Linked DNA regions of Homo sapiens: region 2 is linked to region 1. The links come from fine-mapping of genetic effects on gene expression. A gene starts in region 1. The other region holds a variant in brackets. All regions are shown on one strand. Distances are between the middles of the regions.

Region 1 (5,373 bases):
GTGGTGTGGGCAGGGCGCGCTCTCTCCTCTGAGCAGCCTGGGGCTGCGTGTGTGAACAGAAACAGGCCTGCCGATTTGAAGATGGTTTGACCAAGTCTCCCAAAGCTGAAGAGAGGTCCCTGCCCATGTCCCCCGGGTGGCAATCCACAGACGCACCTGTGTCCATCAGACGGTATCGTTGATAGGGAGTCTGAAGCCACCCAGACGTGGTCTGTTCACGCCGTGGACACCACGGTCTGAGGCAGACGGTTACAGCCACCGGCATAGGCGAATCTCAGCCAGAGAGAGTGAACTGGGACACCATTCACGTGATGGGCCAGATGGGCTGGCAGCGGCTCGCTGGAGCCGTCCGGGTGGGAACGCTGTGTCTGTTGGTCTGGTGCTGCTTATGTGGCTGGTTCAGGTCTGTCATCCGTCAACCTGCATATTTATCACTGGTGCATTTTCATGTATGTTGTACCTCAATTAAAACATTTTAGGGCCGGGCGCGGTGGCTCACGCCTGTAATCCCAGCACTGTGGGAGGCGGAGGCGGGAGGATCATGAGGTCAGGAGATCAAGACCGTCCTGGCCAACATGGTGAAACCCCATCTCTACTAAAAAAAATACAAAAATTTGCCGGGTGTGGCGGCACGCGCCTGTAGTTCCAGCTACTCAGGAGGCTGAGGTATGAGAATTACTTGAACCCAGTAGGCAGAGGCTACCGTGAGCCAAGATCATGCCACTGCACTCCAGCCTGGGTGACAGTGAGACTTCGTCTCAAAAAAAAAAAAAAAAAAATTAAAGCAGATGGGGTGTGGGGGCTCATCCCTGTAATCTCAGCATTTTGGGAGGCTGAGGCGGACCGATCACCTGAGGTCAGGAGTTCAAGACCAGCCTGGTCAACATGGTGAAACCTCATCTCTACAAAAAATACAAAAAATAGCCAGGTGTGGTAGTGGGTGCCGTAGTCCCAGCTAGTTGGGAGGCTGAGGCATAAGTATTGCTTGAATCCAGAAGGTGGAGGTTGCAGTGAGCCAAGAATGCACCACTACACTCCAGCCTGCGCGACAGAGTGAAACTGTCTCAAAATAAATAAATACATAAAAATTATATGTATATATATATATATATATATTTTTTTTTTTTTGAGACTGTATCTCTGTTTCCCAGGCTGGAGTGCAGTGGTGTGATCTCGGCTCACTGCAACCTCCGCCTCCTGGGTTCAAGCAATTCTGCCTCAGCCTCCCAAGTAGCTGGGATTATAGGCGTGCGCCACCACGCCTGGCTGATTTTTGTATTTTTAGTAGAGATGGAGTTTCACCATATTACCCAAGCTGGTCTTGAACTCCTGACCTCATGATCCGCCTGCCTCAGCCTCCCAAAGTGCTGAGATTATAGGGGTGAGCCACTGTGCCCGGCAATAATAATTTTTTTTTTTTTTGAGACAGAGTTTTGCTCTTGTTGCCCAGGCTGGAGTGCAATGGTGCAATCTCGGCTCACGGCAACCTCCGCCTCTCATGTTCAAGCTATTATCCTGACTCAGCTGGGATTACAGGCACCCACCACCACACCTGGCTGATTTTGGTATTTTTAGTAGAGACGGGGTTTCTCCATGTCGGCCAGGCTGGTCTCGAACTCCTGACCTCAGGTGATCCACCCGCCTTGGGCTCCCAAAGTGCTGGGATTACAGCCCTGAGCCACCATGGCTGACAATAATAAAAAATTTTAAAGCAAAACTAAAGATTTATAAATTGTAAAATGCGGTTGTAACAAGTATTTACTGTACCAGTAAATATGAAAAATATTAATGTCCTCACACACATGGAGGTGGCTTGTGAGTGGTGTGAGCATTTCATGGTCAGAGTTTGGCAGTTGGGCGAGAGACAGGATGGATTTTAACTCGAACATCGCAGACACAAAACTGAAAACCCTGATGCGGTGCCTGCACCGTTGCCTCCTTTCCTGCAGCTGTAAATGGGACGAGTAATTCCATCCCCCTCCCGCTTCCACCCTTCAGCACAGACGCAGTCTTCAGCAAGGAAGTGCTGGGAACGCCCTGGAGTGAACCCAGGAAGATGCCTGCAGTGGGTGCCAGGGCCCCTCTCCACCGTCCCTGCTGGGCTTCGGGGCCACGCCCGACTGCTGTGAACGGCCTGCGGAGCACCACGTGCGACGGCTGGAGGCGAGAGGTCTGCCTTTGATGTGGCTGTTGGTGCAGGGCCTGTGGTGCCTTCCGCAGCGGAAATGGCGCGCCGCCCGGGGAGGGCGGGAGCAGCGTCCCGGGTGCCCCTGTGAGGATGAGCGACGAGATGACTGGAGGGTCCCTGAAGACCTCACTAGGGTGCCCCCAGCCGGTCCGCTCCCAGGAAGCGACACCCCCACAGCCCCAGGGCTGCAGCTGAGGGGGTCGCCACTCTGGCTGGGCGAGGCTGGGCCCTTGGGGGCAGGCGCCAGAGTGGCCTCAGGCTCTACAAGATGCCTGAAAACACCAACCTCTCCAGGGCTCACTAGCATTGGACGCTTTCACGCTCTGCCCTGGCCGGAAGCCCCCTCACCCCGCGCGATGTGCAAACTCCTGCAGGGCTCACTCAGTTTCCAGAACTTTAATTATTGGAAAGTTCTCCCTGGTCCAGCCCCCAAATCTGCCGTGAACGTTGACAGCTGAGTTGCTGCTCCATGCGTGCTTTGGCTGAGAGCAGAGGGGACCCCTGTCCTCCCTGAGCTGCTGACGAGGGGAGGGGTGAAGGGTGGGGCCTCTGGAGAGGGCAGGTCCCGGGGAAGCTCCGGACTCCTAGAGGGGCGGCCAGGTGGGGGCCCTGGTGACCAGGACAGACTGTGGTGTTTTTTAACGTAAAGGAGATCCGCGGTGTGAGGGACCCCCTGGGTCCTGCACGCCGCCTGGTGGCAGGCCGGGCCATGGTGGGTGCTCACGCCCCCGGCATGTGGCCGCCCTCAGTGGGAGGGGCTCTGAGAACGACTTTTTAAAACGCAGAGAAAAGCTCCATTCTTCCCAGGACCTCAGCGCAGCCCTGGCCCAGGAAGGCAGGAGACAGAGGCCAGGACGGTCCAGAGGTGTCGAAATGTCCTGGGGACCTGAGCAGCAGCCACCAGGGAAGAGGCAGGGAGGGAGCTGAGGACCAGGCTTGGTTGTGAGAATCCCTGAGCCCAGGCGGTAGATGCCAGGAGGTGTCTGGACTGGCTGGGCCATGCCTGGGCTGACCTGTCCAGCCAGGGAGAGGGTGTGAGGGCAGATCTGGGGGTGCCCAGATGGAAGGAGGCAGGCATGGGGGACACCCAAGGCCCCCTGGCAGCACCATGAACTAAGCAGGACACCTGGAGGGGAAGAACTGTGGGGACCTGGAGGCCTCCAACGACTCCTTCCTGCTTCCTGGACAGGACTATGGCTGTGCAGGGATCCCAGAGAAGACTTCTGGGCTCCCTCAACTCCACCCCCACAGCCATCCCCCAGCTGGGGCTGGCTGCCAACCAGACAGGAGCCCGGTGCCTGGAGGTGTCCATCTCTGACGGGCTCTTCCTCAGCCTGGGGCTGGTGAGCTTGGTGGAGAACGCGCTGGTGGTGGCCACCATCGCCAAGAACCGGAACCTGCACTCACCCATGTACTGCTTCATCTGCTGCCTGGCCTTGTCGGACCTGCTGGTGAGCGGGAGCAACGTGCTGGAGACGGCCGTCATCCTCCTGCTGGAGGCCGGTGCACTGGTGGCCCGGGCTGCGGTGCTGCAGCAGCTGGACAATGTCATTGACGTGATCACCTGCAGCTCCATGCTGTCCAGCCTCTGCTTCCTGGGCGCCATCGCCGTGGACCGCTACATCTCCATCTTCTACGCACTGCGCTACCACAGCATCGTGACCCTGCCGCGGGCGCGGCGAGCCGTTGCGGCCATCTGGGTGGCCAGTGTCGTCTTCAGCACGCTCTTCATCGCCTACTACGACCACGTGGCCGTCCTGCTGTGCCTCGTGGTCTTCTTCCTGGCTATGCTGGTGCTCATGGCCGTGCTGTACGTCCACATGCTGGCCCGGGCCTGCCAGCACGCCCAGGGCATCGCCCGGCTCCACAAGAGGCAGCGCCCGGTCCACCAGGGCTTTGGCCTTAAAGGCGCTGTCACCCTCACCATCCTGCTGGGCATTTTCTTCCTCTGCTGGGGCCCCTTCTTCCTGCATCTCACACTCATCGTCCTCTGCCCCGAGCACCCCACGTGCGGCTGCATCTTCAAGAACTTCAACCTCTTTCTCGCCCTCATCATCTGCAATGCCATCATCGACCCCCTCATCTACGCCTTCCACAGCCAGGAGCTCCGCAGGACGCTCAAGGAGGTGCTGACATGCTCCTGGTGAGCGCGGTGCACGCGGCTTTAAGTGTGCTGGGCAGAGGGAGGTGGTGATATTGTGTGGTCTGGTTCCTGTGTGACCCTGGGCAGTTCCTTACCTCCCTGGTCCCCGTTTGTCAAAGAGGATGGACTAAATGATCTCTGAAAGTGTTGAAGCGCGGACCCTTCTGGGTCCAGGGAGGGGTCCCTGCAAAACTCCAGGCAGGACTTCTCACCAGCAGTCGTGGGGAACGGAGGAGGACATGGGGAGGTTGTGGGGCCTCAGGCTCCGGGCACCAGGGGCCAACCTCAGGCTCCTAAAGAGACATTTTCCGCCCACTCCTGGGACACTCCGTCTGCTCCAATGACTGAGCAGCATCCACCCCACCCCATCTTTGCTGCCAGCTCTCAGGACCGTGCCCTCGTCAGCTGGGATGTGAAGTCTCTGGGTGGAAGTGTGTGCCAAGAGCTACTCCCACAGCAGCCCCAGGAGAAGGGGCTTTGTGACCAGAAAGCTTCATCCACAGCCTTGCAGCGGCTCCTGCAAAAGGAGGTGAAATCCCTGCCTCAGGCCAAGGGACCAGGTTTGCAGGAGCCCCCCTAGTGGTATGGGGCTGAGCCCTCCTGAGGGCCGGTTCTAAGGCTCAGACTGGGCACTGGGGCCTCAGCCTGCTTTCCTGCAGCAGTCGCCCAAGCAGACAGCCCTGGCAAATGCCTGACTCAGTGACCAGTGCCTGTGAGCATGGGGCCAGGAAAGTCTGGTAATAAATGTGACTCAGCATCACCCACCTTAGCCCCTTCCAGAAAGTGCTTGAAGTTTGCGGGTGGAGGGATGGGGGAGGGGAAGGTGGGCAGGGGTGAGAGTCGAGAGGGAAGAAAGGAGTCCCGGAAAACGTGGCTGCCTCCCCAGGTGAGGAAGCCACAGCCCCAGAGGCCCCAAATGCCTGGGGAGTGTGGAGGTCCCAACCAGGCTTGCGCTGACCCTGCTTCTCGGTTTTCTCTCCGTGCTGACAAACCCCAGCCTAGAGGAAGGACGAGCAGGTGCAGCAGGGCCCCAGTCCCCTCC
Region 2 (5,373 bases), 140 kb after region 1:
GATTGGCCATAAAACACATTGACCTCTAGCTTCTCTAAACTCTAAATTAATTCTGTTTTATACCACAGAACTTGGTGCTTGATCACGTTGCTCTGCTTCTAGATTAGCTCACATCATTCTACACTCAGCTCAAGTCCATCTTTCTTTGACAGGCCTTCCTCTAATCACCCTACAGTTCACTCAGCTGCCATTCACCTGACTTCTTCAGATTCCTAGAGAAACTCAGAAGTCTCTTTCTCTTGGCCCAATAACATAGAACAGTAATAGTTGATTCATTTTTCTATTCTCTGATAGAACGACAGCCCATTGTGGAAAGGGGCTGGGTCATCCTGCAGTTCACTTCTGTTCAAGTAGTGAACTTCACTTCCTAACCTGGAACATACTAAGTGTTTAACAAATGTGGATTACATAAATTAAAGCATGAATTAACCTTATCAAGGTTTATCTTGGTGCCTCAATTTTGTCTAGCATACATATTTGTGTTTTGATACCAATAAATCATAATATCTATATTTTTATTTTTTATTTCTAAAAGTTGATGGTATAAAACAGCATTGTATGGAGAAAAATAGAAATAGGGGATGTGAAAATCATTGAGGGAGGCATAATGAGAAGGAAGGAAGTCCGGGTTTGTGAGAGATGGAGGTTCTCTCTGAAACTAAGAGACCTAGTGGCCTTACCTCATCCAGTTGGCCGAGGATTTATCTTTTCCATCCACATACTCATAGCAGTTTCTCCCCTTGGTGATCTGAGTTTCAAAAAATAAGGTAAAGACTTTTTAGAGGGTAAAAATCCGAAGAATTATTTTACTCCACGGTCATCAATGGCCTTTGGACCTGCAGAGCTTCAACTGCCAACTGAGACCACATGGCATGCACCTTAGTCATCATCTACACATCTGAGTTGGTTTGTCCAATCAGAGCAGAAGCTCCAAAAGGGAGGATGCACTTCTTTGTCTTTGTACCACTCTGCTCCCATGTACCCTGTGATCTCTAAATAGGAGTTCCATGTTCATGCAAAGACCCTTGAGTACACAGAGCTAACCATGTTATCCCTACCTATATCCTAACATGTAGAAGGTGATGTCCCATCAAAGGCACAGAAGGGATGTGGGAAGACAGAACAGGGGAAACAGCAGGCTCTTCTTACTAGCCAGGAATATCCACTGTTGGCTGCCTCTTCGTCTTCTGTAATTCGGCCCTCATAGGGGCCAAAGTGCAGACCCAGTGGCAGATCAGATGCCTCGTTCCATACTCCAAGCCCAGCCTGAGGGATGCCTGATGGCCCAATTCTCAGCCCCGGGGGCAGACTGAGGGCTGAACGGTTGGGATGCCCCTTGTCCACTGCACTGTCCTTTACAAATGTAGGGGGCCCATGAGCAGCACAGCTGTCAATGAAGAAGTTCTGACACATCTCACAATCTGGAAGTGAGGGAAGCAGGGATTAGGAAAGTTGTAATGCATGTTCCTTGATATAAGAGCTTCAGAAAGAGCGTGGCACTCACATTATTTAGCCCCAATCCTGTACTTTAATTCATTCGAGTAAGGGAATGATTTGTGGGCCAAATGATGAAATTATTGTACCAGGACATAACAGCAAGCTGTGTGAGTGGCTGAAAGGGTCACTCACAGAGGTAGTCATCATCCTGTGGCTCGCTGATCTCTTTGTATGCATGACCCTTTCTTTCTCGCAGGCTATACATCTTTCCTTCAGTCTCCTTCCTCCTGAGTTCTAGGTTGGAGAAGAGTAGATGGGTAAAATTGGGAGTCTGGGGTGTTTGTCCTTGTTTCATAAGAAAATGTGAAATCTCCTACCATCAAATTAGCATCTACCTTTCTACATACTCTAGTCTCCCTCTGTTTACTGCTTCAGAGAGACTTAGACCCCACACCCACACTGACTGTAGATGCCTATTCAATTTTAGTTTCTAGCTGTTCTCATTATCCCATTAACCTCCCAGCCTTTCTGCTTACAAAATGGTTCATTCATGCATTTATTTATTCAGAAAATATTTTTTGAGAGTTCATTACATCTTAGGCATTGAACAAAGGCCTGGACATACAACACTAAGAAAGTATAGTCTCTATAGGGGATCTTCTATGTACTAGTTGACATGTGATGGAAAAGGAAATGTAGAAACGCACAAAAGAATATATATTATCAGAGAGGTACTTATTGGACACCTCACATGTATGAATTCATTTATATTTAATTTAATGATTTCAAACAATACATGAGCTCTATATACTTGGTCTCATTTTACAGATTACCATTCAGGAGCCCATGGAATTTATAAGATTTGCCCAAGGCCCCAATGCTTCTGTGTGGATTATAACCCAAGTGAGTGACTTCAAAGTTAATGATCTTACATGCTATTCAATACTGTATCCAAGGCTAGGCATGGTGGCTCAAGCCTGTAATCCCAGCATTTTGGGAGGCTGAGCTGAGCAGATTACTTGAGGCCAGGAGTTTGAGACCGGCCTGGTCAACATGGTGAAACTCTGTCTCTACTAAAAATCAGCCGGGCACGGTGGTGCACACCTATAATCCCAGCTACTCGGGTGACTGAGGCATGAAAATCGCTATTTTCGTGGAGGCAGAGGTTGCAGTGAACCGAGATCTCACCATTGCACTCCAGCCTGGGTGACAGAGTAAGACTCTGTCTCAGTGAACAAATAAATAAATAATTTTAACAAAATACTGCATCTAACTTCTGGTCTCACAGTTGAGTCCAGCTTAAGCCCAGGCCTATCCAAAGTCCACCCCACATAGGTAGACCATACTCACCAACCTTTCTAGAGGACATAGAGGGACTAAATTCCCCTCAAATTTTTTCTTACCCAGTTTTAGTCTAGAGTGCTGTCCAGAGGTACTTGCTTCTCCAGGAGGGGACACTGGTTTCTGAGCCTGCTCTGAGTCACTTGTATTCAGTAAATTTGGCGTTCCTGACAATTCTCTC[A/G]AACTAGATTCATTATTGAATGACGCCTTGGGCATTCCCTTTAATGTGAGAATCACATATTAAAAGACAACGTGCATTTATTTAGTTCTTTACGGCTTGCAACATGTTTTCATATGACTGTAGTTAATGTTCAAACCTTGGAAATACCTAGAGTGTCTAAATACTAGAGGGAAAAGACAAGGTCTAAGTGGGTAGTGAATCTGGGACTCTAACCCATGTCTTAAGGCTCTTTCCTTCAACTTCCTCTCAAAACGTTCTGTGTAAGTTAAAGGGAAGGAGGAAGAATACTTGGGAAGACTAGCTGGAGAATCAGCAAGATCTGTGAAAGAAGGGGATGAGGGCTTACAGAGAGAAGGAGGGAATCTTCCATAAACTAGTAGACTTTTGATGGAAGGGGAAATGTAGAAAAGCACAGAGGGACAAAGCACATCTGGAAAATGAGGTAATAGGGCAGTAAGGTTCGGAACAGAACAAAGAGATGATTGGCAAAAATATATCTAGACAACTAAGAAAGTGAAGTCAAAGTTGCATGTTGCCATATCCTGGAAAGAATATTTGGCTTTTGAATTAGATTAGTTAGTTCCTGTACCAATTCTACTTGTCTGCTTGAATAAGGGTGTATTGTTAGCTAATTTCTCTTTAGTTTCCCGATCCAGAAGTTGGCATACATGGTTTTGTTTTGTTTTGTTTTGTTTTGTTTTGAAAAGGAGTCTTGCTCTGTTGCCTAGGCTGGAATGCAGTGGCATGATTTCAGCTCACTGCAGCCTTCACCTCCCAGGTTCAAGAGATTTTCCTACCTCAGCCTCCCGAGAAGCTAGGATTACAGGCACGTGCCACCACACCCAGCTAATTTTTGTATATTTATTAGAGACGGGGTTTCGCTAGTTTGGCCAGGCTGGTCTAGAACTCCTCACCTCAAGTGATCCACCCACCTCAGCCTCCCAAAGTGCTGGGATTATATGTAAGAGCCCCCGCACCCAGCCCATGCTAATTCTTTTTTTTTTTTGAGAGGGAGTCTCACTCTGTTGCCTAAGCTGGAGTGCAGTGGCACGATCTCAGCTAACTGCAGCCTCCATCTCCCAGGTTCAAGCGATTCTCCTGCTTCAGCCTCCCGAGTAGTTGGGATTACAGGTGTCCACCACCATGCCCAGCTGATTTTTGTAGTTTTAGTAGAGATGGGGTTTCACCATGTTGGCCAAGCTGGTCTTGAACTCCTGACCTCAGGTAATCTGCCCACCTCTGCCTCTCAAAGTGCTGGGATTACAGGTGTGAGCCACTGCCTCCGGCACTAATTCTTAATATTGTAGTGAACATGAAAGATAATAATGTTCACCAAAGTGTTTTTTGAGCTACTTAATACAGTATGAATGTGAGATTAATAATTATTCTCGCCAGGCACAGTGGCTCACACCTGTAATCCCAGCACTTTGGGAGGCCAAGGCAGGCAGATCACCTGAGGTCAGGAATTTGAGACCAGTCTGGCCAACCCTGTCTCTACAAAAAATACAAAAAACTAGCCGGGTGTGGTGGCGGGCGCCTGTAATCCCAGCTACTCGGGAGGCTGAGGCAGGAGAACAACTTGAACCCAGGAGGTGGAGGTTGCAGTGAGCCGAGATCGCGCCACTGCACTCCAGCCTGGGTAACAAGAGTGAAACTCTGTCTGAAAAAAAAAAAAAAAAAAGAAAGAAAAGAAAAGAAAAGAAAAAAATAATTTTTCTCACAGACTGGGTGCGGTGGCTCACATCTGTAATCCCAGCACTTTGGGAGGCCAAGGTAGTAGGATGGCTTGAGCCCAGGAGTTCAAGACCAGCCTGAGCTACACGGCAAAACCCTGCCTGTACAAAACACATAAAAATTAGCTGGGCATGGTGGTGCATGCCTGTGGTCCCAGCTACTCAGGAGGCTGAGGCAGGAGGATCACACTAACCTAGGAGATGGAGGCTGCAGTAAGCCGAGATTGAGCCATTGCACTGCAGCCTTGGCGCAAGAGCCAGACTCTGTCTCAAACTACCCCCTGCCCCTGTAGAAAAATAACAAACGAAAATTATCTCATAGTCCTGATATATCTCTACAGTTGAAATCTAACTCAAAGATATTTTCAGCATTCCTTGACCCTGTTACTTATAGTTTAATTCATAAGCTTGGAATCAATCATTCAGAAAACACTCAGGAGGCTCTCAGAGGCCCTGAGCTGGGCTTGGGAGTTCTAAGAAGAATCAGGAAGGGACTAGACTCCTGAAGAGCTCACAATGAAGAGGCAGCAGGCAGGCTAAACAAATAATTCCAAATAACATGACAGTTCCCTAATTGGAGCCCAGAGGAAGGAGCTGTTACTGCCTTCTACAGGAATGAGCATTTGAAATTGGTTCCAGAAGAATATATTTTTACTTAATAGGGTGTAACCTATATGAAGT

What was found. PIP is the estimated chance that this variant, and not a neighbour inherited with it, causes the effect. A credible set is the group of variants that fine-mapping cannot tell apart.
Region 2: its variant is the best candidate, but not a certain one, in a credible set for the expression of MC1R in whole blood (TOPMed, PIP 0.53).

Annotation. Positions count from the first base shown.
Region 1 is chr16:89,915,878-89,921,250 of GRCh38, forward strand. MC1R (melanocortin 1 receptor) reads left to right here and starts at 2,985. Exons shown (of 1, transcript NM_002386.4): 1 at 2,985-5,095. The coding sequence starts at 3,382. The coding sequence ends at 4,335. It overlaps LOC124903759 (keratin-associated protein 5-1-like), which reads left to right. Exons shown (of 4, transcript XM_047435031.1): 3 at 1,999-2,170; 4 at 2,974-3,093. The coding sequence ends at 3,078. RefSeq lists enhancers at 1,754-2,639, 2,640-3,523, 2,876-2,925, 3,524-4,407, 4,408-5,291 and a silencer at 3,425-3,706.
Region 2 is chr16:90,060,772-90,066,144 of GRCh38, forward strand. It overlaps PRDM7 (PR/SET domain 7), which reads right to left. Exons shown (of 11, transcript NM_001098173.2): 6 at 2,841-2,997; 7 at 1,630-1,731; 8 at 1,150-1,421; 9 at 681-748. Among named protein-coding and RNA genes, the nearest start is that of PRDM7, 14 kb to the right of the region's middle. The variant A/G (reference allele first, on the strand shown) is at 2,960.